Linked DNA regions of Homo sapiens. The protein of the gene in region 2 interacts with the protein of the main gene of each other region in a pairwise test. Each region holds a gene or a part of one and is shown on either strand. Other genes may lie near its edges.

What was found.
Region 1: the proteins of TRIM59 (region 2) and ZDHHC21 interact in binary tests that used the Homo sapiens proteins (3 or more experiments, as listed by UniProt).
Region 3: the proteins of TRIM59 (region 2) and VTI1B interact in binary tests that used the Homo sapiens proteins (3 or more experiments, as listed by UniProt).
Region 4: the proteins of TRIM59 (region 2) and ANKRD33 interact in binary tests that used the Homo sapiens proteins (3 or more experiments, as listed by UniProt).

What each region holds. Positions count from the first base shown.
Region 1 is NC_000009.12:14,690,417-14,697,328, reverse strand, and holds the start of ZDHHC21 (palmitoyltransferase ZDHHC21), read left to right. Parts: upstream 1-3,896; 5' UTR 3,897-4,100; intron 4,101-6,912. UniProt on the Homo sapiens protein: Palmitoyltransferase that catalyzes the addition of palmitate onto various protein substrates. Palmitoylates sex steroid hormone receptors, including ESR1, PGR and AR, thereby regulating their targeting to the plasma membrane.
Region 2 is NC_000003.12:160,446,787-160,453,993, forward strand, and holds the start of TRIM59 (tripartite motif-containing protein 59), read right to left. Parts: upstream 3,001-7,207; 5' UTR 2,931-3,000; intron 2,010-2,930; 5' UTR 1,940-2,009; intron 1-1,939. UniProt on the Homo sapiens protein: E3 ubiquitin ligase involved in different processes such as development and immune response. Serves as a negative regulator for innate immune signaling pathways by suppressing RLR-induced activation of IRF3/7 and NF-kappa-B via interaction with adapter ECSIT.
Region 3 is NC_000014.9:67,650,633-67,657,662, forward strand, and holds part of VTI1B (vesicle transport through interaction with t-SNAREs homolog 1B), read right to left. Parts: intron 5,958-7,030; coding exon 5,784-5,957; intron 2,867-5,783; coding exon 2,805-2,866; intron 1,077-2,804; exon of another isoform or gene 850-1,076; coding exon 753-849; 3' UTR 289-752; coding exon of another isoform or gene 83-288; 3' UTR 1-82. Other genes in the region: ARG2 (arginase-2, mitochondrial precursor), read left to right, coding at 83-288. UniProt on the Homo sapiens protein: V-SNARE that mediates vesicle transport pathways through interactions with t-SNAREs on the target membrane. These interactions are proposed to mediate aspects of the specificity of vesicle trafficking and to promote fusion of the lipid bilayers.
Region 4 is NC_000012.12:51,883,431-51,891,121, forward strand, and holds the start of ANKRD33 (photoreceptor ankyrin repeat protein), read left to right. Parts: upstream 1-4,672; 5' UTR 4,673-4,756; coding exon 4,757-4,901; coding exon of another isoform or gene 4,902-4,928; intron 4,929-5,137; coding exon 5,138-5,388; intron 5,389-5,636; coding exon 5,637-5,766; intron 5,767-5,941; coding exon 5,942-6,052; coding exon of another isoform or gene 6,053-6,150; exon of another isoform or gene 6,151-6,727; coding exon of another isoform or gene 6,728-6,729; exon of another isoform or gene 6,730-6,996; coding exon of another isoform or gene 6,997-7,059; exon of another isoform or gene 7,060-7,153; coding exon 7,154-7,691. UniProt on the Homo sapiens protein: Acts as a transcriptional repressor for CRX-activated photoreceptor gene regulation.

The DNA.
Region 1 (6,912 bases), on a different chromosome or scaffold from region 2:
CTAATTTTGCAGCTGGCTTTATCTGTGTCTGTCCTCCTTGTCTGATTAGTGGCAGGGCTTCTTTTCTCTTTTCAGTCCAAATTGATTCTCACTCTTTTAATCCAAAAGAGATTTTAACTCTTTCAGCATCCTAGACTCAACTCATCAGAACATTCACTAGGATGCGTTTTCCTACTAGCACTTAACCAAGTGTAAGAATCTCAGGTTCATCATGATTTAATTGAATAGAAACTTCTAGAGCCACCATCAAACAATCCAAAGTTGAGGTAAAGCAATGTGGCCTAACAGGTTCCAATGTAGTATACTTAGAACCTTTCCAGATGCCCCACTACTCTGCCTTTTGATAATACCACTGCCCTCACTAATAGTCTTTTCCAGCTTGGAGCAGGTCATCACCTTTTGCCAAAAGCCTAAGGACTCTTCATTGGGAATAGCATTGTTTCTGAGGCTCACCATGCTTGGAATCTGTTCCACATTTCCAGCCCTCTCTCTTTCCATGTATCCTACCTTTGAGCCACACCAGAGGGATTCTTGCACTTTCATTTCTCTATGTTTTTGCTTACACTTTCCTCTGTCCTGAAATTTCTTTCCCTCCTTTCCCCCAATCAAAATCCTATTCTCACTTGCCTGATACAGGAACCATTCTCCAAGAAGCCACCCTTGAACTATCCCATGGAAATTACTAGTTTCTTCATTAGCACTTCCATAAAACTTTCCTTGTAACTCTGTTTAGCACTGCTATTGTTTTTTTCTCCTAAGCACACAGTCGTTTTTGTTTGTTTGTTTTGCAGTTTTCCTTGATATTTGGGGAAAAATGTTTATTTTACCTACTCTCTACATTCTAGGGATATTTCTTAGCCTGAAGTTCCTGGCTTCGCTGTGATCCTTTGGAGGCATAGGAAGGTGGGGCAACTTGTGAAACTTCATATATATAAATTTCATATATATAAATATATATGTTCCTGTATGTGTGTGTGTATATATGTGTGTGTGTGTGTGTGTGTGTGTGTATTTGTGTATATGTGTACTTTGCTGGGGTCCACAACTTTCATCAGATACTCAAAGAGATGTGTAACCCAAAAGAGAAGAGGTTAAGAACAACTTTTAGAATATTAGATTGTTATGGCACAGGCACTCTGCCACTCAAACAGATGGGAGAGACAACTATAGGCAACCAAGAAATCATGAATGTGCATCAAATATGGGTGCTTAAGGCATGGTACCCAGCTGGGCAGGTGGAGAATGCCATCCATCCAAAGCTGCCAAGGGCTATTAGCCAGTACTGATTAAACTCTGGACTGCACTGATTTTTGGAAATTGCACTAAAATCCAGATCCTCCCTAGTCACGGCACAGAAGCACAGGAGTTGGCTGTGTTTACCCTCATAAATGCCCTGAGTGTGCCTTTGTTAGAAGCTTGGTTGGCAGTGGCAGCAATGCTACTTGTCCTTGTCTACTTTTTCTACTTCCAGATAAATATTAGTTTGATTAATAATCACATTTCAGTTTGTCCCAGGCCCCATGAAGTAGATTAGAATTCTGGAGGGAAAAAATATGGTACGATCTATATCGTCTTTCCATAATATACCCAGTAAATAGAAAATCTTTTCAAAAGATTACCTGATGCCACATCTCCCTCACCCCCTTATTGTTACCCAGGTGCCTGAATGTATGGGTTGCAATACAATATAACCAATGATTAGCATGAATGATAGAACCAGATGACTTGACCTTCAGTGTAAGGGATAGGCAGGCCTTTGATTATACTCATGAAATGCCCATGCTAAAAAGGTTCATGTTTTTAAGGATGTTTCTCCTGCCTCTTCTCTCCTATTCCCTTGCTTAAAAATTCTCTGTGGAATTGATTTGGCTGATAAAAGACAGGCTAACTTATTTTAAAAAGGGACTGAAAAATCCATGCACTTCCAATTGTCATGTGCAATCATGGACCTGTCAACTAATTCTTATTTTGGCAGTTTTGAGATCACTTGTCACAAATTATTCCCTCTCACAGGGGTATCTGAAGAGAAAGCAAAATAATATGCAATTCATGTAGCTGGATTCAGGTGGAGGGGATTCTACTTTTAATATGCAATTGGGTAGCTGGATTTGGGTGGGGGGGGGATTTTACATTTAATATGCAATTCTGGTAGCTGGATTCGGGTAGGGAGGAGTCCACATTTAATATGCAATCAGGTAGCTGGATTTGGGTAGAAGGGATTCACATTGAATACGCAATCAGGTAGCTGGATTCCGGTGGGAGGATTCCACATTTCCTCTTCCTTCAAAGTGATTGTTTATATGAAATATCTCCTTCTTTTCAAACAGAGAAAGTTACAAAAATCCTACTACATCAAATGATTTATGAAAAATAAAGGTAATTCTATCAAAAGCAATCGTGACTAGTCTTTCAACCTCGCTATGCATATATCGGGGAGTGTATTTGTTAACCTGAAAGGCAATAAAATCTGCTTATGGGTAAATCAATTCCTACCACTGGGTTCTTTTGGGAATATCTAGTAATCTAGGTCAGTAATTCTAAAACTTGAGTGTGTATTAGGATCACCTAAAAGGCTTGTTACATCACGGATTGCTGGGCTACACCTAAACAGTTTCTACTACAGTAGATCTGGGATGGGGCAAAAGAATATGGATTTCTCACAAGTTGACAGGTGATACCGATGCTGCTGGTCTAGGGATCCCACTTTGATAACCACTGACCAAAGTTTTTAAGGTCACAAGGTGTTTATAATTAGTTCAGAAACCAGGACACAACATGTTTAAAAATCCTTAGCAATACAAGGTAATATGAGGCCCCAAACAGGCAACAATGTGCACTATATAAGGGCAGTGGTGAGAGAACTCTGGTTTGGCAAGATTTCCACTCTCAAATCTGGATAGGGTTAAGATCATCAGAGAGCAGGGCATTCTAGAATGGGGAAATGAACCAAATTAGTTGGAGCTAAGACTGGAGAGGTAGGTAGGGATGTGTCTGTGGAGGGCTTTTAAGCACATCTTATAAGGAATACAGATTTTATACAACAGGTAATATTTCTTCCACCAACACACTGTCTCCTCCTGTGGCACGTGGGCAGAAAGATCTAGCTCCACATTACTGCAAACGGTTTAACCTTCCCCAAATACTGTTCAGCCGGAGTGAGGTGGGAAAGTTAGTAGATCTCTGGTGTTTGGTGAAGATACCAAGTTAGACTGAGAGGTGGATTACTTGCATCGCTGAGTCCAAAAGTTGTCGGCTTTTGCAGGGATGGGAAAGCAGGAAACTTTTGGAGGTCTCCCAAAATATAAGAAAAGATTGTTTGGGTGTGGATTTAGGTTGAGGACAGGAACAGGAAATATCCTGGGATGTCTGAGGCAACCCAATAGAGGGTCTGAAGTGGACGAGACCATGCACTACAGTGCAATGCTTTTCCATCTTTACGGTGCACCCCAGGAGTCACCTGGTGATCTTGCTGAAGTGCATGTACTGATTCAGCAGGCCTGAAATTGTGCATTTCAAAGATTGTGAGTTCCCAGAGGATGCTGATGCTGCAGACCGCGCTTTGAAGCAAGGTACCATGGGACATCCCAGAACACCTGCGGGGAGAGAGGCCTGCTGGCCACATCCCCCGAAGAAAGGATACATGCAATCTTTTAAGCTAAGGCCCCCATCCTGTCTCTCGGGAGAGGTGAGCAGTGAGGATATGGGGACAATGAGAAGGACGGCTCAAGTAGGGCTGGGGAGGGGCAGAGGCGCCCAGGCGCGCCAGGTGCAAGCGCTCTGGAGAGTGCGGTCTGCCTGGGTCCGCGGCTCTGGGGCTGCGGCGCGATTGCAGGAGTTTCGGCCCTCAGCGGCTCCCATCGCGGCTCCCGGGAGCTAAGCGAGACGGCGACGGCGGCAGTCGTCCCTCCCCACGCGGGCGCGCGGGCATGCGGACACCCACTCGGCCGGTCCAGGCCCTCAGGCTCCCGGAAGCGGAAGGGGAGAGCGGCCCGGCCTGGGCGGCGGCGCCGGAGGAGGCGGAGGTGGCGCGGCAGGAGGAGGGGAAAGAGCTGCTGGCGGTCGGGAGAGCGGCGGCAGCGAGAGGCGAGCCAGCGGCGACGGTGAGTGTGCAGGCGCGGGGGCGAAGCGGCCGCCCCCACCCCCATCCCCATCCGCACCCCCACCCCCATCCCCGGCCCCCGCTCCGCTCTGCCGGGCCCGCCCGCCGCTCCTCCGCGCCGGGACGCCCTCACCTGTTCCTGCACGCCCCCTGCACCTGCTCTGTTTGGAACCCGGGGGTTTCTCGGTGCCTCCCCGCCCCAGGCCTGGCCTTTTTCAGAGCGTCTTCTGCTAGAGCTACAGCCCCTTGCTAAGTGCTCCTCCCTCAACTGGGGGTGGGGGGTTCCTGCTCTAGTCGAGACGATGTTGGCTAGTTATTTATTTATTTATTTTAAATCTGTATCCTGAGTTTCTCGCTTGTAAACTACAGTTTCTCTCCCCGCACCCCCGTCTGGAGACCTGCACTGGGATCCCGGGTTTCTCTGTGCTATTCCAGAGCTTTTCATTCATTCCAGACTTCTGGTGTGAAGCTGCAGAGAGGACAAACAGTTTGCTCCTTTATTGACCTTCTCACTCCTCTCCTCTTGATCCAAAGAGGTTTTCGGAAAATGGCTTATGGATGGCAGCAGTTTGCACTTGTTACTGTTCACTGTAACAGGTCGCTGGATTGTAACTGCAGAGTCCATTTAAGTTACGGTCTTTTTCAAGCTATATGTGGGTCACATTTTAAGATCCCTTGAGAGTCAGGGTGGATGTCTGTATCACCAGGGCTGAGAGGACATGACCAATTATTACTTTAAAATATTGCAATATAGCAGTCTCTAAAAGTAGAAGAGAAAAAAAAATCAAGGTCATTGTGGGCGGGTCATAAATTATATTGTAAAGTTACAGTCCAAAGGCGACTAAGGATAATTAAGTGCAATTTAAAAAGATGTGTTAAATAGGTCCTCAGCCTACTATGCTAATATATGCACTTTTAAAAATTCACTGCTTTCCTTGTGGTAAGAATAATATTAATAACAGTCACCATTTGATGACTGCTTAGTATGCGCCATTCCTGGATTAAAAGGCTTTTGGTGTAATATTAAATTCTTCCAACTCTTTAGATTTTACTTATTTTAAAGGTAAAATTCGGAGAGATGCTCTGTTTTTCCTTAGTTTGTGCCATCTCTTAAAAGCAAAAAGATATTTGAAGAATTGAGGTGAGAAATCCACTGGAAAGAAAGAGCCAAATGAGATTTGGTGTCGTGGAAAGAAAAACTAGATTCTAGTCCCATTTCTGTCACTATCCAGCTGTGGGTTTACAGGTAGGGCAATGACCCATGTTATTTTCTCTATACCATCAGAGAGCCAGACTAAATTATTTAAGGCTTATTTTAGCTTTTCCATGCTTACTTGGAAAATGTTTTTAAATAAGACCCTTTAACGTGGTTTGAAGGTACATTAAAAACATATACGAAGTATTAGTAAAATATGAAAATATAAGTTAAAATGTATAATTCCATAATTGTTTTGGTGTAGTACTCTTCCAGAATTCATCATTTTCGATGGAAACAATTCTATTAGATCCTTTGACACTACTGAGATTTCTGTTAACATACTTGAGAAGCTGTAGTTGGAATAAATGAAATAGAGCGTCATTTAAAGAAAATGATGAGGACCGTGTCACTTTTGCCTACGAGGTACTTTGTTTAATAAGAGAAATCTAAGCATTTAAAAATGCAGACATATAATCAGCTTAACAGGAAGTTCTGAGACAAGAATCAATGAATCATAACATGTACTTCTTATTTGCCTACTGCCTCATTTCTTTAATTCGTAATGACCGATTCAGAACCTGTGGAAAAATGCATGAATAAAATAATGGTTTTATAAAATGTGACCCACATATAGCTTGAAAAAGACCGTAACTCAAATGGTCTCTGCAGTTACAATCCAGGGACCTGTTATAGTGAATAGTAACAAGTGCAAACTGCTGCCATCCATAAGCCATTTTCCCGAAAACCTCTTTGGGTTGAGAGGAGAGGAGTGAGAAGGTCAATAAAGGAGCAGTTTATTGTTTGTCCTCCTGCTAGTCTTATTATATAGTGGTTTAGTAAAGAAACTGCTTGAGAAGTTGAGTAATGTCTCAACATGGAGCTGTTTTTCTGGAATTGTAATTGAATGTGACTCAGTGAAAACTTTTTTAGCATAGGAGGTGACACAGTGGCAGTATCAATACTACCAGGCAAAAGAGGGAAGGCAGAGGAAAGGCTGTTTTTATTGCCAAGAGTTTGTTCCCTAAATTCAGTTTTACTTTTATATTAAGGAATGTAACCTTTTATGTTGTTTTAGTAAAACATTAGGGCTCAGATTCAACTTTTCACATGCATTAAATATAATAGGCAATTTAGCATCTAGTAGAATAATCAGTGCTTAAATAACTCTTATTAAAGGTAAAAATACAGGTGAAATTGTAAAACAGTTTTTATTGTTGAAAGTGATTTGTTAAGAATTCTTGATAAGTCAAGTCAGACTAGTTTAAAAAGCACATTTTCATAGACATGTGAATCATCACTGTGCTCATTGATAGGTCCCTGAACAAAAATACCTTAGTATGATGGTACTTTATGTGTTTGTTTTGCTCTTTAGACCTAACCTAGGCAAAATTGTGACATTTTTGAAGTTTGCCTTCTGCCTTTCAAGCTGCTTTTTCCTCTGTGCTATTTCTCTCAGGGTAGATTAACCTTCTTCCCCATTTCAGAGACTCTCTTAACCGATGTGTTGCCCCTTCTACAAAAGGGCAGGTTGGGTAAAATTGATATTTTACCATTCACTGGTGAATTTTATTTTAAATCTAACCTAAAATGCTCAAGTGTGATGTCAACCAAGCTT
Region 2 (7,207 bases):
ATAACAGCGTGAACCCTACTGTGAACTGCGCACGCGAGGGATCTAGGTTGTGGCTCACTGTGAGAATCTAACTAATGCCTGATGATGTGCGGTAGAACAGTTTTATCCCAAAACCATGCACCACCCACCCCCACCCGTCCACAGAAAAATTGCCTTCCACAAGACCGGTCCCTGGTGCCAAAAAGGTTGAGGACTGCTGGTTTAATGGGTACACAGTTTCAGTTTGGGAAGATGAAAAAGTTAACGGAGATAGTTGATGGTGATAATTACAAAACAATTTGAATGTATTTAATACCACCAAACTGCATACTTAAAAAGATTAAAATGGTAAATTTTATGTTTAGCATATTTTACACAATAAAAAAAAAACTTTAAAAAATTTTCAAGCGTCTTGCCTATTATCCAGTCTTCCTTTTGCTAAATGAATTTGAATCAATTTATACTACTGTATGTTTTTAAAAAGCAAAAAAGTAAAATAATCCATGTAAAATGTATTTTCCTCTAGTGAGTACTAAGCTCATGTAAAAACCAAGTTCAAGATTTCCTGCTTCTCTTTTAAAACCGAGAAATATTAATATAAAAAAATGAATCTTCTCAGAAAGAAACCTGAGGCTAAATCACTCTACTTACAAATTATTTCACTAATGTCTAGTGTGTTTAAGTGTCAAAACAAATACATTTCTGAATTTCCAAACTTTTTATTAAGTCTTTCTCCAGAGGGCCAATTCACTAGTGAGCCTCCCTGATGTCTAACTGGCATATTAGGTAATAGACAGTATAATAGATGATTAAATAGCACCGAAAATATCATTACCCATTCTCCTGTGTAAACCAGTTTTTAAGTTTTAATTCACTAATGCTTTCCTGCCTTTCAACTCTAAACATGAACAGTTGTAAAACGTTCATTACATTTCACAACCTCTGAAAGGAAAATATATTTATTACATTATAGAATTCGATGACTTGTCCCAAGACTTCTAGTGAGTCAGCTTTAAGTATGGGAAAATTCAAGTGGTGCCACCACCCAAACTGGGGCTCACATCTTTGTGGACCTAACTGATAAAGAAGAAATACATTTCATGCAAGTCAAGACTTACTTAAGAAATAACTACAACTGCACCATTTATAAACATATATAAGATTTTTTTAACATTATCGCAGAAAGTCTGAGAAACAAGATTTTTAAAAATAATTCTGTCACATATAAATATACAAAAATAGTGAGAGATCACCTTAACTTTTTCAAATTAAAAAAATCCTATGGTCAGCTGATTTTAAATCTCTTTGTCCATCTGTACTATTTTCTTTCATTTTGATATCAACCTGTTTCCCTAAACTAAAAAATAAAAATAAAAACTAGAAACAAAACAAAAAAAGACTATTAATTCAATTTAACCGGAATTGACTTGAGAAATTAAGGCTTTAATTGCTTTTGCTGTACTTTTCAAAGTAAAAATATATCTGGTGGGAAATATTCATCAACGTGTTTAGTGAAAGGCAATGTCAAAACTAACATCACCTAAAATCAAAATTTCACCTTGCCAGATTAAATAGCTACTTACTCATTTAAAAAGACCAATACATGAATGCATAGTGAAAAAGTATCCAGGTAACTTAATTTGCAGTTTTGTGTAGTTCTGCAGATCTGTATGTATAAAATAACAACTTTGCATGTGTTTTGAGATGTACACATTCTTGTAAAATTTCTAGAAGGATGTACAAAAGAGTTAAGTGACTACTTTTAAGGTACAGATCAGAGAAGGGAGTTGTTTATTTTTCACTTTATGCTCCGCTCCTTCGATAAAATGGTTGGAGTTTTATACACCGCCAACACAATGTTTTTTCAAAAGACTTCTAAATTTCACTTTGTAGTTTAAATCATACACTCTGTAAAAACTTAATTGTTTTTCATATTTATTTAATCTCCCAGATTACCTACTTTGTTGATCTCGTGGTTTGGGGGCTGAATACACTCTTCTCCAACTCCTCCAGAATCTTTTATTCTTATTCTAAAATTAAAATAATGTTATCTTTAATGTTTTCAATTTATTGTCTCATGTCATAAAAATGGTTGTTAGTTCACTGTCTTTGATATTTATCTTCACGATGCTTCATCGTGTTTTCAGAAAAGCCACAAACACCAACACAGTTGCTGGAGCTGCAGTAGAGGTATCGCTTGTTCCTTGAAAATCCTAACTCTGACCAAACAGACTGTCACAAAGGACCTCTTTTCACAACGTCAAGTAGCTTATGAGCTCTCGACAATATTACCCAACAATGGTGATGGCAGAAAAAACATTCACGGTCATTTTAGAGTGCTTAAAATTAACTGCAAGACAAAAGCATCCATGGGAGTAAAATACCTTGCCAGCTCTAAATTATAACTGATTTAGTATAGTTTGCTCATCTCTCTGTTCTGCCATTTCAATGCTGTGGGACCTGGGTCAGTATTACCAAATACCTCTCAAAAGTGAGGCTTCACATCTGTAAAATGGGTAACTGCACCTACCTCACTTAAGTCCTGCGAGCACCTCCCACAAAGGGGCTCAAAATGGCAGTACTCTTCCCTTCCCCTTCTCAAAGCTCCACTCTCCCAGGCCTCCCTCCTAACGCGCCTCCACCTCGGCACCCGCCCGTCCCCAACCCCGCGGGACTGACCGACTCGGCGGCGTCCGCTCAGCTCACCCTCGCCACCACAGAGGGCCTCCTCCCTCACAGGAACGCAGCTCCACAGTGGAGGGACGGGAAAGTGGCTCCCCAAACTCCAGTATGGGACAAGAGGGAATGAGTGCAGGTCCCAAGCCACTCCCTCCATCGTCGCGCCCCCAGGACTCCCCGCCCAACACACTAGGCACACCAGACTGTGCTACAGGAAAAGAAAAAGGACTCAGAACCACCTTCTCCGCATCCGTAAAGGTCCTTAGACTCACCGCGGGGAGGAAGCGGACCAGGCAACTCCACAGCACGGAAACACAGCGCCACGAGCTCCAGGCGGATGCTGAGAGCCGCCCCGAGTCCCCGCCCTCCTCTGCCCCGAAGGGCTTCAGGTGCCCAGACCGGGCGGGGCCTCGCGGAGCCTCGCAGCGCAGGCGCAGTCTGCAGGCAACATTCAACTGCAAGGCATCGGCCAATGGGAACTATTGCTGGGCTCGTTCGAAAGTAAACGGTGGACGGCGCGGCCCGAGGCAGGTGGCGGGAGTCAGTTTAAGGCTGGCGCCCAGCTTTCCGCGCCTGCGTGCTAGGCGCAGGCCGCCTCTCGGAAGCTTGGCCTCGCAGGAGCGGCTCTCTATCCTGTGGGGAGCTTCGGCCAGTGGGCCTCGTGAGCTGGGGTCCCGCCTGGGGAATCCGCATGGCACCGGTGGTCTGGGGGAGAGGCTGGGCCTGGCGCGGGACGAGGCGAAGCGCCGGTGGCCGACGGCTTCTGAGGAATTATCTTTTACTTGGCGCCACACGGGGCGGGGCCTCCTGCTATGCTGTGGAGCGCAGTGTCTTCCATCGTTGCCTCACAGACCCGCTGCTCCGGGAAGTCGCCACACATTCTCAGGGAACACCCACATCTGTCGCCTGCGCCCTCCGCCGCTCAGCTGTTTGCTTTTGTTTACGCATTCCGGAGACCTGACCCACCGGAGCACTGGGCTGAGCACAGGAGAAGGGGCTTTGGAGCGCTCTTTGTACTCAACTCCAAGAGCGAGTGGGAAACTCAGGACTGGGTTGGGTAGATCCCTGCGTCTCTCCCTAGCCTTCGTCCTCTTCCCCCGTTTTTCCACTTTATGAAAGTATTGCCTAGAGATGAGGGCTGTCCAACTCAACACTTCCAACTTCAAGTTCCTACTTCACCTCTAACTCCCTAGAGTTAGAAAACAACGTACAGCTTAGAGGTTCCTTTCCCTTTTTTTCTTGAGAAACTTTATTCAGCTTTATCTCAAGACATCACCGCTTCCCTCTCCTGTCAACCTTAAATAGTGAGGTTCTGGAAATATGATTAAGGATAGAGTTTATTCCAGCGTAAGGCTTGAGGGTAGCCACCCAGGAGACACCAGCTCCAAATGGGGTTAGCATTCCAAAGTGAAGAAGTTAGGGTTTCGCCTAGGTGGCCAGAGACAAATTTTAACAGGATTTCATTTCCCCTAAGAGACCAGTGCATACTTACAGCTATTTGGTAGGTTACAGATTACTACATTCCAAGAAAAAGTATTTTGTTACTCCATGAGGGGGGGTAGTGATCTCAGGGGGTTGTATCTCTGGTATGGTTTGGTCCTCCTATTTTAATTATTTATAGAAACAAAAGGCAGACGTTGCAGATGCCTGCTGCTTGACTCAGGCTGTAGCCACATTCCTCCCAAGGCTCGGAATAAAGTTCCAACAGCTTTAAGTTTGAATTATTTAACTTCCAATAACTATAAAGTCATTTTGTTTACTAATGTGCTAAATAAAGATATGGGCTCTAGGCCAGGTGCAGTGGCCCAGGCCTGTAATCCCAGCACTTTCTGGAGGCCAAGGCAGGTGGATCACCTGAGGTCAGGAGTTCGAGACCAGCCTGGCCAACATGGTGAAACCCCGTCTCTACTAAAAATACAAAAATTAGCCGGGCATGGTGGCAGGCACCTGTCATTCCAGCTAGTTGGGAGGCTGGGGCAGGAGAATCGCTTGAACCCGGGAGGCGGAGGTTGCAGTGAGCCAAAATGGCACCACTGCATTCCAGAAAAAAAAAAAAGCTATGAGCTCTATATACTGCACATTGCAGTACATCCAGGTCCTAGGCTTTTATTCAGTAAATTACAGAAAATATTAAAGATATAAAGCAGAAAGTAAGGCAATATTAGGCCTTAGTCAATCTCAGATAGCTTCACCAATTCAGCTCCTTAAAAGGTTGCTTATGAAGTGTGAATTGTAGTGGTAGCTACTGTTTCATGGTGGTAAATATTCGTTTTGACTTTATGTACATTTTCTATTAAACATTGGAGTCATCCTGATAGACATCTTTGTAACTTCCTGTCAAAACAACATGTGGGACAGGCGTGGTGGCTCATGTGTGTAATTCCAGCACTTTGGGAGGCCAAAGTGGAAGAACTGCTTGAGCCCGGGAATTTGAGAGCAGTCTGGGCCACAAAGTGAGAACCCAGCTCTACAAAAAATAAAATAATTAGCCGGAGTGGTGGCTCACACCTGTAGTCCCAGCTACTTGGAAGACTGAGGCAGGAAGATTGCTTGAGCCCAGGAAATCAGGGCCACAGTGAGTTATGATCACACCACTGCACTCCAGCCTGGGCAGCTGAGTGAGACCCTGTCTCAAAAACAAACAAAAAAACCCAACGTATTATGAATTATTTTTCCATAGCAGTAAATGTACTATATTTCTATTAAATTATTGTCTTTAAACAAAGTTTAATTGCTTCTGGAATTGAATTAATATGGCTGAAAATGTTTCTGAGCTTTAATGTTTTTCACCTGTTTTCCCCTCTGTGCTTTCTTACCTCAAAACGGTTATGTATGTAGCAAGAAAACTGAAGAACCTCACACTAGACTTACTGGCTGTTGTTTCCCAAAAAGCCTGAGCCCATGGAGAAAAATAATATTTGAGAGACCCCGCCTGCTGGGGCGCAGGCGGCAGCGGCGTGGCCATGAAGCTGAAGGTGAAGAACGTGTTTCTCGCCTACTTCCTGGTGTCGATCGCCGGCCTCCTCTACGCGCTGGCCAGCCATGTGACTGCCTTCCTCCCCTGCGGGCAGCAGCTGAGCAGCTACGGCAGAAGGATCTGAGGATTTCCCAGCTGCAAGCGGAACTCCGACGGCCACCCCCTGCCCCTGCCCAGCCCCCTGAACCCGAGGCCCTGCCTACTATCTATGTTGTTACCCCCACCTATGCCAGGCTGGTACAGAAGGCAGAGTTGGTACGGCTGTCCCAGACACTGAGCCTGGTGCCCCGGCTGCATTGACTGCTGGTGGAGGATGCTGAGGGTCCCACCCCGCTGGTCTCAGGGCTGCTGGCTGCCTCTGGCCTCCTCTTCACACACCTGGTGGTCCTCACGCCCAAAGCCCAGCGGCTTCGGGAGGGCAAGCCTGGCTGGGTTCATCCCCATGGTGTCGAGCAGCGGAACAAGGCCCTGGACTGGCTCCGGGGCAGAGGGAGTGCTGTGGGTGGGAAGAAGGACCCATCACCACCAGGGACCCAAGGAGTCGTGTACTTTGCTGACAGTGGCAACACCTACAGCTGGGAGCTGTTTGAGGAGATGCGCTGGACCCGTGGTGTCTCAGTGTGGCCTGTGGGGCTGGTGGGTGGCCTGCGAGTCAAGGGCCCTCAGGTACAGGACAGCCGGGTAGTGGGCTTCCACACAGCATGGGAGCCCAACGGGCCCTTCCCTGTGGATATGGCCGGATTTGCTGTGGCCCTGCCCTTGCTGTTAGCTAAGCCCAATGCCCAGTTTGATTCCACTGCTCCCCGGAGCCACCTGGAGAGCAGTCTTCTAAGCCACCTTGTGGATCCCAAGGACCTGGAGCCACGGGCTGCCAACTGCACTCGGGTACTGGTGTGACATACACGGACAGCGAAGCCCAAGATGAAGCAGAAGGAGCAGCTGCAGCGGCAGGGCCAGGGCTCAGACCCAGCAATTGAGGTGTGATGGCGGCCCCACCCCAACTACCACCTCTTTTCAGGCACAGACCTTGTGGGACTGGGCCCCAGGCCTGCCCAGCATGTGGTTTTCCAAGTCCTGACCGCTTGAAGCCAGAAGTGGCCCCTCTGCCCCTCCAGACCCAGGGCATGGTCCTGCTGCTTCATCTCTCCCCCAGCCTGCCATGTGGCACTGCCCACAGGCTGGGGACAAGCAGCCCTTGTATTGAGCCAGGTTGGCCCTGTCTAGGGTGGAACAGAAGGACAGACGGACCCAGGAGGGAGGGCAGCTGATTAACTGGGTAACTTATTGGGGCTGGGCAAGCACTGGGGGGCTGGAGGAGCTGGGCTGGACCCTCCCTACCTGAGCATGCTGACCCCCTTCCTACCTCCAGAATAAAGAATCTCAACCTGAAAAAAAAGAAAAAATATTTGAAGGAAGAGGCCGAATGCTTGAGAGAAGCAGAAAGAATTGTTTGCCCCTAAAATAGAGATGATTCGGGTCCTAGTGGGGGAAAACTATGACACCAAAAGGGAAGGGTTATATTGGTGCCTCCAGGGAGTCTGCTTTAGAGGCCCATGGGTTCCCAACCCTGCC
Region 3 (7,030 bases), on a different chromosome or scaffold from region 2:
GTTCTCCCTGTCCCAGTGGGATGACCCTCACTGAGAGTAGCAGCAAGGGAACCTGAGGTTTTGTCACACTTTGTTCTTCCAGGGTTGCTATCAGCACTGGATCTTGTTGAAGTCAATCCTCAGTTGGCCACCTCAGAGGAAGAGGCGAAGACTACAGCTAACCTGGCAGTAGATGTGATTGCTTCAAGCTTTGGTCAGACAAGAGAAGGAGGGCATATTGTCTATGACCAACTTCCTACTCCCAGTTCACCAGATGAATCAGAAAATCAAGCACGTGTGAGAATTTAGGAGACACTGTGCACTGACATGTTTCACAACAGGCATTCCAGAATTATGAGGCATTGAGGGGATAGATGAATACTAAATGGTTGTCTGGGTCAATACTGCCTTAATGAGAACATTTACACATTCTCACAATTGTAAAGTTTCCCCTCTATTTTGGTGACCAATACTACTGTAAATGTATTTGGTTTTTTGCAGTTCACAGGGTATTAATATGCTACAGTACTATGTAAATTTAAAGAAGTCATAAACAGCATTTATTACCTTGGTATATCATACTGGTCTTGTTGCTGTTGTTCCTTCACATTTAAGTGGTTTTTCATCTTTCCTCCCTCCTCCCACAGCCTGGCTATACAGTGCATCCTTGAACTGTCAGCCCACAGCAGCAATATGCTTATTCTATCCACATCCCTAACATCATGCATTCACAAGGTCAAAGTTCTGGTCCACAAACCCTTCCCTATAGAAGTTCAATGGCTGCGAAAGAATTTGTAGTAAACCAGGCCTCCCAGGATGGCGAGCTCCAGTAAGATGATAATGGAAAGCAGCAGCTTGTTGGTTGTCACTCTACAAAGAGAAGCAAAGTGGGGAGTAGTCAGAAGTTTGGATAACCTTCCTTCTAAACATTTTGGGGTTAGACCTGGGACCACGGCTGGATACTCTGAGGCTGTATGTTTGATCACACAGCCACTTAGCAGGAAGTACTCATAAGGTTCTTTAGCTGTCACTTAGGGATAACACTGTCTACCTCACAGAAATGTTAAACTGAGACAATAAAAACCAAAGCATAAAAATGGATTCTGAAATGTTGTTCAAATAGTAGTTACTTCCTTTAAAAATAGCTTTTCTAGAAAGAAGGGTTAGCTAGAAAAAGTAATCAAATAGACATCCAGCTCAGGATGGGTCCTGCCCTAGGATAAGTAACTAGAAGCCTGGGTAATACCTTTCAATCCCTTGTAAACTTCTTCCCTCTGCCCTATTTTTCCCTTTGCTCTCCTATCAACCCAAATGGGTATGTTATAAAGGTAGTATAGGAGCTTAAAAATTTTCCTATCTGTTGTTTACATAAAGAATCCAACCTCTGGTTCTCATGTTCACTCTAGGTTTCTCCCTAGTCCACAAGGAATTTATCACTGTAGGAAAATCCCACCCCTCCTGCTAGTTCCATGAGTGGGTTGTAGTTTTGTTTCATGCTAGGCCACCTGTGCCCAAGGTCACGTACAATACCCTCTTACCCCCAACTTCAACCTCAGTGGCAGTATTTCTGCCCTGGATTTGTTGCTGTTAGCACTCGAGGATTTTGTTTTTTATTTTTGGTAAAGACTACTGTATTGGTGGCAGTTAGTACAATTCAAATATTGTCTTCAAAGAAGGACTTATTTATTCTCTATGGACTAGGAGTCCATACAGAGCTGAATGAAACTGAATCAAGTCACTGCTGTGATGACTGAAGTCAATCCCATTTCTTGGGAAATGAAACCACAGCCAGCTGATGCATGGCATATGCTGTTTCACTAACTGAGAACCATGGTGGCTCTATACAGGAGGTCATCAGCTCTACCACCCTTTAGATGCACTGGAATTCCATTCTTCTCCTGAAACAGCTTGTGTTTTCTGGACCTTTATTTTCAAAATGCCTGCATGAAGCAATGCTCATGGTCCTCTGGGCAACCTGACAGTGCCAGCAGATTCTGCAGCATCTTGACTCAGTTACTGCCCAAGAACCCTGACAACTCCACAAGGGTTTTATTTTTAAAAGTCTACTTCTTCCCTACAATATAGAACTTCCAGAAAAGGAGCTGACTCCCATGAAGGGCAAGCAGAGCCAAAAGCAAGTACTATGCAAGTGAAAACTACTTTCTAATCAAGATTTTACAAATATATTTCTTTTTTTTTTGAGACGGAGTCTCGCTTTGTCCCCCAGGCTAGAGTGCAGTGGTGCCATCTCGGCTCACTGCAACCTCCACCCCCCAGGTTCAAGCAATTCTGTCTCAGCCTCCTGAGTAGCTGGGATTACAGTGCCCGCCACTACGCCTGGCTAATTTTTTTGTATTTTTAGTAGAGACGGGTTTCACCATTTGAGCCAGACTGGTCTTGAACTCCTGACCTTGTGATCTGCCCGCTTCAGCCTCCCAAGGTGCTGGGATTACAGGCATGAGCCACCGCACGGGGCTGAGATTATATAAATATATTTCAAGGAATAGGAAGCTGTTATTCCCATGTGTTGCCTTCTCTAAAGAACATCAGCTGTGATTAAATGTCCTTTCAGTGGAGAAATTTTTCACTGCTCCAAGTCAAAGCAGTATATACTTTTAACAAATGATTTTATCCTGAGTTATTTAATTATCCAAGACCATATTCCTTAGCGTCTTTATTCTGGTCTGCTGGGTGGTACTGAGTATACAGGGACTATGCGTCAACTGCTGAGGTGCTTTATGAGGACCTTTGTAAGTCACTATTTTAAGCTTTTTGGTTGAAAGCCACTGAGTTAAGAGAAATTTCATGACTTTAATAAAACTTACTTTCTGGACATTGAACGGAGAATCTTCCGACTTTTGCTCAAGTTTTCACTTGTGTTTACCAGCTGAGAAGAGAAAATAGTGATTATTTCCCTCTTTAAAAAGTATACTCTGTACAATTGAATATCCCTAGATTAACAGTAGGCATTAAGGGATATATGTTGAAAAATTCCAAGAAATCAAGCCAATTTAAATGATGGCCTTTGAGTGTAAGTAGAAGAACCTGGAAAGGACAAGATATTTTAGTACTCATCAAGTAGGCTTAAGAATCATCTTCCCAGGTTGCTGCTGGGGATGGACTCCTGAGACTGAGCTAATCTTCTACCGTGGCTACTCCAAAAGGGAAGGCTTCAAGTGTAGCCAGCAGACTGGCCAGCCAGTGACTGTAGAGCAACTTAAGATTTGAATTTCATCAGCCAAATTCCAGGACAGCCTCTTGAGTTGGCATTTGTTTTTGTAGGCTGGTCTGTTACTGCTTTTGGGATCTGGTTTTTTTCTTTACCCTCTTAAGAGACAGTTACATTGAACTGTGAAAAGAATTAACCTCCATGGAACTTTCAACTGCTTGCTACTAATCTGGACAGCTGGAGGATATTTCACCTCCAGCAGATGGCTACTTGCCATCTGTTCCCATTCCCCAGTGGCCTTGGTAAGCTGACCTCTCAGCTCGTTCCTTGGCTTTTATTTATTTGAAACAGGGTCTCACTCCGTCACTCAGGCTGGAGTGCAGTGCTGCAATCGCAGCTCACTGCAGCCTCGACCTCCCAGGCTCAAGCAATAACCCCACATGTCCCCAAGTAGCTGGGATCACAGGTGCACGCCACCACACCCTGCTCCTTTTTTTGATTTTTAGTAGAGATGAGGTCTCGCTATAGAGATGAGGTCTCGCTCTAGAGATGAGGTCTCGCTATGTTGCCCAGGCTGGTTTCAAACTCCTAGGCTCAAGCCATCCTCCCACCTCAGCCTCCCAAAGTGCTAAAATTACAGGTGTAAGCCCGGCCTCCTTGGCTTTTAAATTCAACCAATCTACCTGGTATGTTCAAAAACCAAAACCCACACAATCTGTAAGCAAGTTACATTCTCCATAGCTTGCCTTGAATGTAGTACTTTATTGTGAATTTTCACTGAAGAGGGCAGGGCATTACTCTGACTTAATGGAGAACTGAAGCTATTAAGAAAATCTACTCAAATCTTCACACTGAGCTAGTATTTTCCTGTCCAAATCTTGGCCACAGTATGTTTTTCAAATTGATTTGCCTTCTGCTATTAAGAATACAGCATTCCATTGGTAAATTGTACCAATTAAAAAATTTTGCCCGGGCGCAGTGGCTCACGCTTATAATTCTAGCACTTTGGGAGGCTGAGGCGGGCAGATCATGAGGTTAAGAGATCGAGACCATCCTTGCTAAAATGGTGAAACCCCGTCTCTACTAAAAATACGAAAAATTAGCCGGGTGTGGTGGCAGACGCCTGTAGTCCCAGCTACTCGGGAGGCCGAGGCAGGAGAATGGCATGAACCTGGGAGGCGGAGCTTGCAGCGAGCCGAGATTGCGCCACTGCACTCCAGCCTGGGCGACAGAGCAAGACTCCATCTCAAAAAAAAAAAAAAAAAAAAAAAAATTCCAGCTGGGCACAGTGGCTCATGCCTGTAATCCTAGCGCTTTGGGAGGCCAAGGTGGAATGATTGCTTGAGCCCAGGAGTTCGAGAGCAACTTTGGCAACATAATGAGACCCCGTTTTTACAAAAAATTAAAACAATTAGCCAGGCACAGTAGCACATGCCTGTATCGCAGCTACACATGAGGATCACTTGAGCCCAGGAGTTTGAAGCTACAGTAAGTTAAAATTGCACTGCTGCACTCCAGCCTGGGTGACAGAGCAAGACCCTGTCTCTAAAAAACTAAAAAATTCCTATGTAGGTTAACTCATTTATGGAAAGGAAAAAATAAATGAGTTATTTTTCTGAGGCTCTCAGAGTGACAGCAGACTAGAGATCCCTGATATAGTCATCATTTGATTTAAATATTTGTTTTCTTTCCACAATGATCCAGCTTACCTTACTGGATAATCCTTAGACATTTTTTTCCCTATTACTTTTTTTTTTTTACTTTTACTTACATAACAGTAAAGGGTTATAGTCCAGGATTGAAGCATAATTTATAAATCTATAAACTGTGGTACTATTTTATGAAATCTGGAAAACAGCCTTGGCTCTAAATAACAGGATATAAGCAGATGATGTTTTCGTAAGAATAGCAGAATACCCTATTAGATGTGTGAGAAATTAAAATCTCAGATTGGAAGCTTTGAATCCTTAAGTGCCTTTTGACATATTATTTCTCTTGCCAAAGAGAGAATGCAGCCACTTTATCCTTATTAATTTCTGTAATCTTGTAAGTGTAGAAATCAGGTCCTTCCATCTTTTTTTCCCCTCACTGAAGCAAAAATTTCCAGTGATGTCTAAATCTTAGGGGTAAAATTGCTTCTAAGGGACATCTCTCAGCCAAGCAAACTAAAAATTGAGCAAAGCGGCCGGGCACAGTGGCTCACGCCTATAATCCTAGCACTTTGGGAGGCCGGAGCAGGTGGATCACCTGAAGTTAGGAGTTCGAGACCAGCCTGGCCAACATGGCGAAACCCCATCTCTACTAAAAATACAAACATTAGCTAGGCATGGTGGCGCATGCCTGTAATCCCAGCTACTCAGGAGGCTGAGGCAAGAGAATCGCTTGAACCCAGGATGCGGAGGTTGCAGCAAGTGGAGATCACGCCACTGCACTCCAGCCTGGGTGACACAGTGAGACTCTATCTCAAAAAAAAAAAAAAAATTAATAAATAAAAATTGAGAAAAGCATAAGAACTTAAAAAAGACTATTCCCTGAATACAGAACTGCTGTAGCTTTTGGCCTTAGTACGGTTTCCAGGTGCAGTGGCCCCCTAATTACCCCATACTTGCCCCTTTCCCTGTCTGCCCAGACTTACTCTACTCTTGGTACGTTCTAACTGGTCTCGTTGTTCCCCCAGCTCTTCTATGATTTCTGAGCCAATCTGGTCAGTCTCTGTGGCAATCCGATGAGAACGTTCAATACTTTGGGTGGCCCGGTTCAGGCTTTCAGTGCCCTGCAGAAGCATTGCCCTTTGAGACTGTAGCCGATTCTGAAAGAAGTATGGAAGAGAAATGTTAGACTTTTTCCATTATAAATTCATTGCCAGCATATTCCTCATCACCTTCCCCATGTTAGAAGGGATATAGTGAGCAATAATTTTCATTCCTTTTAAGACAGAACCAAAGAAGCTAATGATTCTTTTCAAGGTCACAGACTAAAGCAGGACCTGAAATCCAATCAATAGGATCACAATACCCCCACTCCACTGCCTTTTACACTTACGCGAGGCAAGGAAAGATGGATTAAAAATACTGGAGCACTTTCCCTGTGTTTGTAATGAATCTGAACTGGTCCATGTGCCTCCTGGACTATCAACTTCTGAAAGGTGGCAGCCCAGATGTGGGAGCTACCTGATAATGCATATAGCCTGTAACTTCGATAGTGCTATGGGCAAACCAACTAAACTCTGCAGCCCTAGAAAAAGGTTAATTCACTGAAGATTCCCACTAGACTGGTACTGAGGATTGACGGACCATGAATAAGCTATTCTGTTCTTCGTTTTAAGCCTCCAGCACCTGGTATTTCCAGGTGGTCTCCCATCCAAGTACTAACCTGGCCTGACTCACTTGGCTTCTGAGATCAGGCAGGTTCAGAGTGGTATTGCCTAGATGACTACATTCTTCTTTTTCAGCTTCTAAAGAAAGCATGTAGAAGTCTGAGACACTACCACATTCTGGAAAAAACGTATGTGGTTACCCTCTTGGTGAGCCCCAGAAAGAACTTCACCTAAGGTCAAACAAAAAACCTTGAGCCTGCCACACTGGGGGTGATTTGGTCTCAGGGAAATTAGTATCTGGGGCTTGAGCAAGCTTCCCCACCTGCCCTAATTTCTCAACTGCCCTAATTTTCTAAATCCCCACCGAAGTTTTACTCCACCTGTAATCCTAAATACAGACAGCAGGAAGAAAAAAGTAGCCTTGTCAGGCCAGAATTAACAACCACTGACAGAAACGGAGGCAGCTCCAAGTTCTTAGCTGTTCAAAGCACGCGCGCGCGTGCACACACACACACACACACACACACCCAAAATCAAAAGGGACCCAGCTCACAGAGGCCTAGTAC
Region 4 (7,691 bases), on a different chromosome or scaffold from region 2:
CTCCAGAGAGGCCTCTCTCCTTGGCTTGTAGATGGTACCTTCTGACTGTGTCCTCACGTGTCCTTTTCTTGTGCAGGCACAGAGAGAGAGAGTTCTGGTGTCTCTTCCTCTTCTTATAAGGACAACAGTTCTATTGGATTAGGGCCCTATCCTGCCCTAATAACTTCATTTAACCTTAATTACCTCCTTAAAGGCCCTGTCTCCAAACACAGTCATTTTTGGTGTCAGGGCTTCAATATATGAATTGGGGTTGGTTGAGGGAGACACAATTTAGTCTATAACAGATTATTTCTTCAATATTATAAAAGTGAATTCCAGATGAATTAAAGACTAAATATTAAAAATAAAACTGCAAGATTAATAAAAGAAATGAAGATCTTTGTGATCTTGGAGTAGAAAATTCTTAGTAAACAAGACCCTGAACACAAAGTATAAGGAGAAATTCTGGTGAATTTAACCATATCAAAATTCAGGAGCTATTTCAATGAAGGTCACCATAGATAAAGCTAACAGAAGGGTTTATATAGTACAGTTGCCTCATCTATAACCCATCTGACAATGGCTTTATTATCTAGAATATTAAAAGAATTCCTGAAAAATCAATAAGAAAAGGATAGGAAAATTCAATAGAATACTGAGCAAAGGCCATGAACAGTCAATTCACAGGAGGGAAAACAAGATTGGCCAGCAGGGCATGTGGAGAGATGCTCACCTTGTTGATAATCAGAAAAATTCAATGTAAAATAGCAATATCGCTTTATAGTTCTATCAGATTGACAAACATTAGAAGGCTGAATAATGACATGTGTTGTCTAAGACGTAGGGAGACTCTTATGCACTGCTGGTAGGCACACATGGTGAAACAGAGTGCAACCTGAGTATCCACTCAGTAAGTGTGTATGTGCCCTGTGATCTAGTGATCTCAGAGACCCCGATGGGTCCACAACTAGATACGTATGAGGGTGTTCACTTTGGCATTATTTATAGTGACAGGAAGTTGGAGGCAACCTAAGCATCTATTGCAGGAAGAAGGGATAGGCTAAATGAGGTGGATGCACACTATGGAATTCTATAAGCAGGAAGAAAGAGGGAAGAAAGAGGGAAGAAAGAAAGAAAAAAAGTGGTGCACTCTACATCTTTCATCAAGACAGTGTTAATTATAGTGAACCCCAAGTTTCTCTTCAAAGAATCAGTATGTCAGTATGTTCAGCTCTCTTATTCTTTGATTATCCATTTTAAAGTTTAGCTTCCTGGTTCTCTTCCGTTCCCTTGCTCCTGGTTTTAGTAAACAACTTTCCCTCTAGTCCTAATCAGTAGTTCACATCTGTTCTCTGGTCAGCTGCTCCATCCTGACTCATCCCGTTTATCTGCTTTGACCTGAGTCATCCCAGTCACCTGCTTTGACCTGAGTCACCCTGGTCACCTGCTCTGATCTAAGTCACCTTTAGTTCCCTGTTCCTAACTGTCCTTCCCGCCAAACTACCCACCCCGCCACTCTAACTCATATCCCTGCTCTCTTTAAAATAGCCAATCGGAATTAGCTTAGGCTGTGCGGTCCAACCCTAGCCAATAGGGGAACGCCACAGCAGTAGGGCCGTGTGTCAGGAATAAGAACTCCTTCTCCTCTCCTGTCCAGGTGTGCTCTTGCCATTGTTCCATTCACGACTCGCACCCTTCTATAGAAGTAAAAATTGCCATGCTGAGAAAATTAAATTTATGTTCGAGTGCTATTTCCTTGCAGCATTGAAAATTTATTTACAACAACAGCATGAACTTTTTTCCTAGAATCCCTATCCATCAGACTTCTGTTTGCATTTCATTGGCCAAAACTGCATTACATGATAACACCTAACTGAAAGGTAACTAGAGAGAAGGGGAGTTATGAACAGGGATTGTGTTAGATAATCAGAGATGTCTGGTTTATCATCTGATAGATTTTTTTCTAACTGCTGTATAGAATTCCATAGGGTGCATCTATCCCATTTTGCTGTGATGGCTAGAGGTTTAGCAGCCATCTTGTGCCAAGGAGGAAAAGTCAAGAGAATCCCAGAGAAGGCCCTGACAAGTTTCTTAACCAACATCAACAGTTTCCTATTCCTGAACTTTTTATCATGTATTAAAAACAAGCACCTCTTTGTTTAAGCTACATGTGTCAGAGTTCAATTGCAGACAACAGAAATAAATCTGGACCTGGTGCAGTGGCTCACGCCTATAATCCCGGCACTTTAGGGGGCCGAGGTGGGCTGATCAACTGAGGTCAGGAGTTCAAGACCTGCCTGACCAACATGGAGAAACCCCGTCTCTACTAAAAATACAAAATTAGCCGGGGTGGTGGCACATACTTGTAATCCCAGCTACTGGGGAGGCTGAGGCAGGAGAATCACTTGAACCCGTGAAGCGGAGGTTGTGGTGAGCCGAGATCGCGCCATTGCACTCCAGCCTGGGCAACAAGAGTGAAACTCTGTCTCAAAAAAAAAAAAAAAAGAAAGAAAGAAAGAAAGAAAGAAAGAAATCTGATCAGTTTAAACAGAAAGGGATGGAGAAGCAGGCTTAGGTCCAGGAACAACCCCCAGCTTTGAGAGTCACATGACCTCTGCCTGTGATTGAGAAAACAACAGTCACTACTACAGGAAGCTGATGAATCAGGAAGCTGCTCACCAGAGCCTTGCTGCTGCTGCCATGACCTGTGACAGCAAAACGGATGTCCCATGCTACGTAGCTCTGTTCCAAATTTATATCTTGCACAAGAGCAGGACGCAAACCACAGAGTCATAGCTCAAGGGAATCTGGGAAGGGTTGTTTTAGCTTTCCAACTTCTGCAGCGCAGAAGAAACACTGAAAGCAGTTTTAGATTAATGTTGAGGAGCCCGTCTATTATGGACAACATACCATTCAGCTTTTTGGTTACTAAAAACCAAATGCACATCCAACTGATACACTGCACCTAAAGCAATAAGGATGGAGCTTAAGTGAAAAAGAAAAAACTAACAGAATAAGTTCTATAGCACAATTCATAACATGTTAGTTAAAAACACATACAAGCAGAGCATGGAGGCTCATGCCTGCAATCCCAGCACTGTGGGATGCCAAGACAGGAGGATCACTTGATGCCAGGAGTTTGAGACCAGCCTGGGCAACAAAGTGAGATCCCCATCTCTACATAAAAAAGTTAGACAGGCGCGGTGGCACACACCTGTGTGCCTCCGAGAAGCTCGTAGCTTCTCGGGAGGCTGAGGTGGGAGAATCACTTAAGCCCAGGAGTTTGAGGCTGCAGTAAGCTATGATCATGCCACTCCACTCCAGCCCAGGTGACAGAGTAAGACCCTGTTTCTAAAAAGAAAAAAATAAAATAAAAACACACAAATCAGTACTATCTTTTTCAATGAAATGTACATTTTCAAGGATATACAAGTGCCAGTTGGTAAAGGGTGGAGGAGAATGGGATGTGGGGATTAAGGGTGAAAGAGAGAAACTAAAGAAAGTAAAACAAAACAAGAGAGAGGTCTTGTACAGTCTGATGATGGGAGTGATACCAATGGGGGAATATCATTGGCTCCATTTTCTACATCTGTGGACCAAGACCAATCCATCAAGCTTAATATGTAATATAAATATTAAAGAATATTTTGATAACAATTTATCATTATATTAACAGATCATTTAATTTAAATATTTCATATTTAATTTATCACACTGAAACTAATCTATTAAATTTCATACATCATAATTTCTGGCCAATCCCTCCCTCACTACTGCCTGCCGCACTTTGTGCCCCGACTGCCCACCTGCACTAGACACATAATGTCGGTACTCACAATTTCGTTTGTTTGTTTGTTTTGTTTTTTGAGAAGGAGTTTCGCTCTTGTTGCCTAGGCTGGAGAGCAATGGTGCGATCCCGGCTTACTGCAACCTCTGCCTCCCGGGTTCAAGTGATTCTCCTGCCTCAGCCTCCTGAGTAGCTGGGATTACAGGCGCCCACCACCAAGCCCAGCTAATTTTTGTATTTTTAGTAGAGACAGGGTTTTGCCATGTTAGCCAGGCTGTTCTTGAACTCCTGACCTCAGATAATCCACCCGTCTTGGAATCTCAAAGTGCTGGGATTACAGGCGTGAGCCACCCCGCCTGGCCACAATTTTTTTTTAAAAGGAGGTCTCCCTCTGTTGCCCAGGCTAGAGTTCAGTGGCGCGACATCGGTTCATTGCAGCCTCGACCTCCCGGGCTCAAGCGATCCTCCCACCTCAGCCTCCTGAGTCGCTGGGATAACAGACGTGAGCCACCGGGCCCAGCTCTATACTCATAATTTGACAATTATGTTTTTATTTCCCCAGAACCTCAAAAAATAAGTTCAGGTGACCCCCCTGGAGACCCCACCCCAGGGTCATTCTGAGAGTACCAACCCTATTTAATGAGATACCTGCATTCACTCACCCCCTCTCCCGCAACCACCCCTTCAGCAAGTCGCGCTCCACCCAATTAGGAGGGGCTTTAGGCTGGGCCTAAAAAGTTGGGCCAAGACCCCACGAGGCAGCATCTCCGCCGGCGTCCCCAAGGCTGAGAGTGGGCGCGTCCGTCAGGAGGAGTCGTCTTTGTGAGCCCGCCCCGGCGGGGAGGAGCTGCCCGGCTCAGGCCCCGCCCACCCGGAGGATCTTGGGGCTGGTCTGAGTCCGCTCCTGAGACGTGACCACCCGCCCCGCATGGGGCCCCAGTCCCAGCTGCTTGATCCGGCTCAGCCCCGAGGTGTTTGCAGCAGCTCTTTATGAAAGTCCAGCCATCTGTTACCTGCGTTGCTTCCTGGGGAGGGATAGTCCACCTGGAGGCATTCGGAGACCCAGTGATTGTGCTCCGCGGAGCCTGGGCTGTGCCCCGCGTTGACTGCCTCATAGATACCCTACGAACCCCAAGTAAGAAAAAACGACGACCCTCTCTCCGTGAGTCTCACTGGGGTGCTGACCTAGAGTGAACCCTGCTTGCTTAGGGCTCCTGACCCAGCGCTTGTCCTTTCTCAGGGTGGATGGGGCGAGACCCCTGCTGGGATAAATGTTTTCCCTGGGGCAAGGGCTGTGCACTTCGCAGCTGCTGGGTCCCCTCCCTAGGATCCAGGGAGACACTCACTACTCCTCTCCATTCTGTGTTTTAGATGCCAGCTGCATGAGAAAAGGGACTCACCTTCTGGTTCCCTGCCTGGAAGAGGAAGAGCTGGCATTGCACAGGAGACGGCTGGACATGTCTGAGGCACTGCCCTGCCCGGGCAAGGAGACCCCCACCCCAGGCTGCAGGCTGGGGGCCCTGTATTGGGCCTGTGTCCACAATGATCCCACCCAGCTCCAAGCCATACTGGATGGTGGGGTCTCCCCAGAGGAGGCCACCCAGGTGGACAGCAATGGGAGGGTGAGATGTCCTGGCTTCCCAGAACAGCTGGGGGCATCTTTGCATCCCCACCACACCGTCCTGGCCTGGCTCCCTGAGAGGGGTTCAGGGGCAATACCTCCTGCAGTCCTAAGGAGGAAGGGAATGGTTAAGGGCGGGTCTTCACGGGGTTTGGGGCAGGCTCTGGGACAGATATGGGTTTAGAGGGTGCAAGGGGCCCTGGAGTGGCCCAGGGGGAAAGCAGGGGATCTGAGCTGCCCCTCCCTCAGACAGGCCTCATGGTCGCATGCTACCACGGCTTCCAGAGTGTTGTGGCCCTGCTCAGCCACTGTCCTTTCCTTGATGTGAACCAGCAGGACAAAGGAGGGGACACGGCCCTCATGTTGGCTGCCCAAGCAGGTGTGAGGCTGCTGCACCCCACTTCCGACAGCCCCCTTTTGATGCAGACAGGGCCTCAGCCCCACCCTTGTTGCACGGTGTTCTACACCAGACTCTGTCATGCTGGGTGGAGGGCGGTTTGGGAGCTTCATCACCCCCTTTCCTGGGGACCAAGCTTACCCTTGCTGCCCTGCAGGCCACGTGCCTCTAGTGAGTCTCCTGCTCAACTACTATGTGGGCCTGGACCTGGAACGCCGGGACCAGCGGGGGCTCACGGCGTTAATGAAGGCTGCCATGCGGAACCGCTGTGAGTGCGTGGCCACCCTCCTCATGGCAGGTGTGCGGGGCCTGGACCGGGGTGTGTGGCCTCCAGTCCCTCCTCCAAGCCTTCCCACCAGACACTAAGTCAGCTGTGATTATTTGCAGAAAGGAGAGAGGTGGAGATGGGGGATCAATCTAGTTCACCTTCCTGGAGGGGGGGGCACATGATTTGGGCTTCGTACAATCAACCAAGTCCTGCTATTGATAGCTCAGACATTGTGTGTGGAGGTCCCAGGAAGGAAAGTGTGGGAGGGGAACCTAGCCCAGCTGGAAAATCTAACACGAAAAAAGGCTGGCATCTGGAACCAGCCCCTGTTCCTAGCTGAGTGGCTTCCCTCTTTGGGCCTCACCAGTATTGTGAGGGTGTTAGCTTTCCCTGGGACTACCTCCAACTCTGACAAGCCAGGCTTCCAGGGGATCCAGGGAAGTGTCGTTGAGGCCTGTGGCTCTGTGGGGTCGTTCAGGGGGAGGTGCGGTGAAGTCCACATTGTCCATGGAGTTGTTTGGGGGCCCTTCTTCCCCGCAGTGGGGCTGCCCTCTGCTGGTCACTCTGGGGGACCCCTGCCTCCATTTTTCCCTTCCCCACACACCCCACTGGGTTTGGAGTGAAAAAGGAGTGAATGAAAAAGGAGGGCGCTCTACACCCTTTCTTTTGTCTTAGAGTGACTGCTCCTCCCACAACCCCAAGATGGGAGAGGGAGATGGTGAGAAGAGAAGAACCAGGAGAGGGAACCAGCCGATCATCCCCACCCACCTGCCCCAGAGGGTGCAGCTCAGGCCTCTGCCTGTCCTGGGCAGCCTGCACCGCTGCTCTGCTCAGCTCCTTGGATTGAGGAGATCCCTATTCTGCCCTAGGTGGAGCCCCACAATAGGTCTCTCTGAAGTCTTTTCCCCTCTCTGGACCTAAGTGTCTTAATCTCTCTTAAACAGGAGGTTGCAACACTGGCCTCCCTGATTCCACCTTCAACAGGATGGGACTCTATGGCTTCGAATGTAACCCACATCAGTCTTGCTCCTAAAGAATCTGCCCTTCCACAAATCACCAACCCCTATCCCGCCCCATGTCACCCCCTGTGCTCCTTCCCAGGTGCTGACCTGACAGCAGTGGACCCTGTTCGGGGCAAGACGGCCCTGGAATGGGCAGTGCTGACCGACAGCTTCGACACCGTGTGGAGGATTCGGCAGCTGCTGAGGCGGCCCCAAGTGGAGCAGCTTAGCCAGCACTACAAGCCCGAGTGGCCGGCCTTGTCCGGGCTCGTGGCCCAGGCCCAGGCCCAGGCCCAGGTTGCCCCTTCACTCCTAGAACGGCTGCAGGCTACCTTGAGCCTCCCCTTTGCCCCGTCTCCTCAGGAGGGGGGTGTTCTGGACCACCTTGTGACTGCCACAACCAGCCTGGCCAGTCCCTTCGTCACCACTGCCTGCCACACTCTGTGCCCTGACCATCCACCTTCGCTGGGCACCCGAAGCAAGTCCGTGCCAGAGCTGTTAGGTACTGCCCCGCCCCCTCCCCTGGTTCCCCAGTCCCCGCCAGGGAGTCCCCAGAGGTCCCCGTGGGTCTTCGTCCCCTACCAGAGCCCTCAGGGCATATTGAGCAAGTGCCTTCAGTGGCTACAACCCAGGGATAG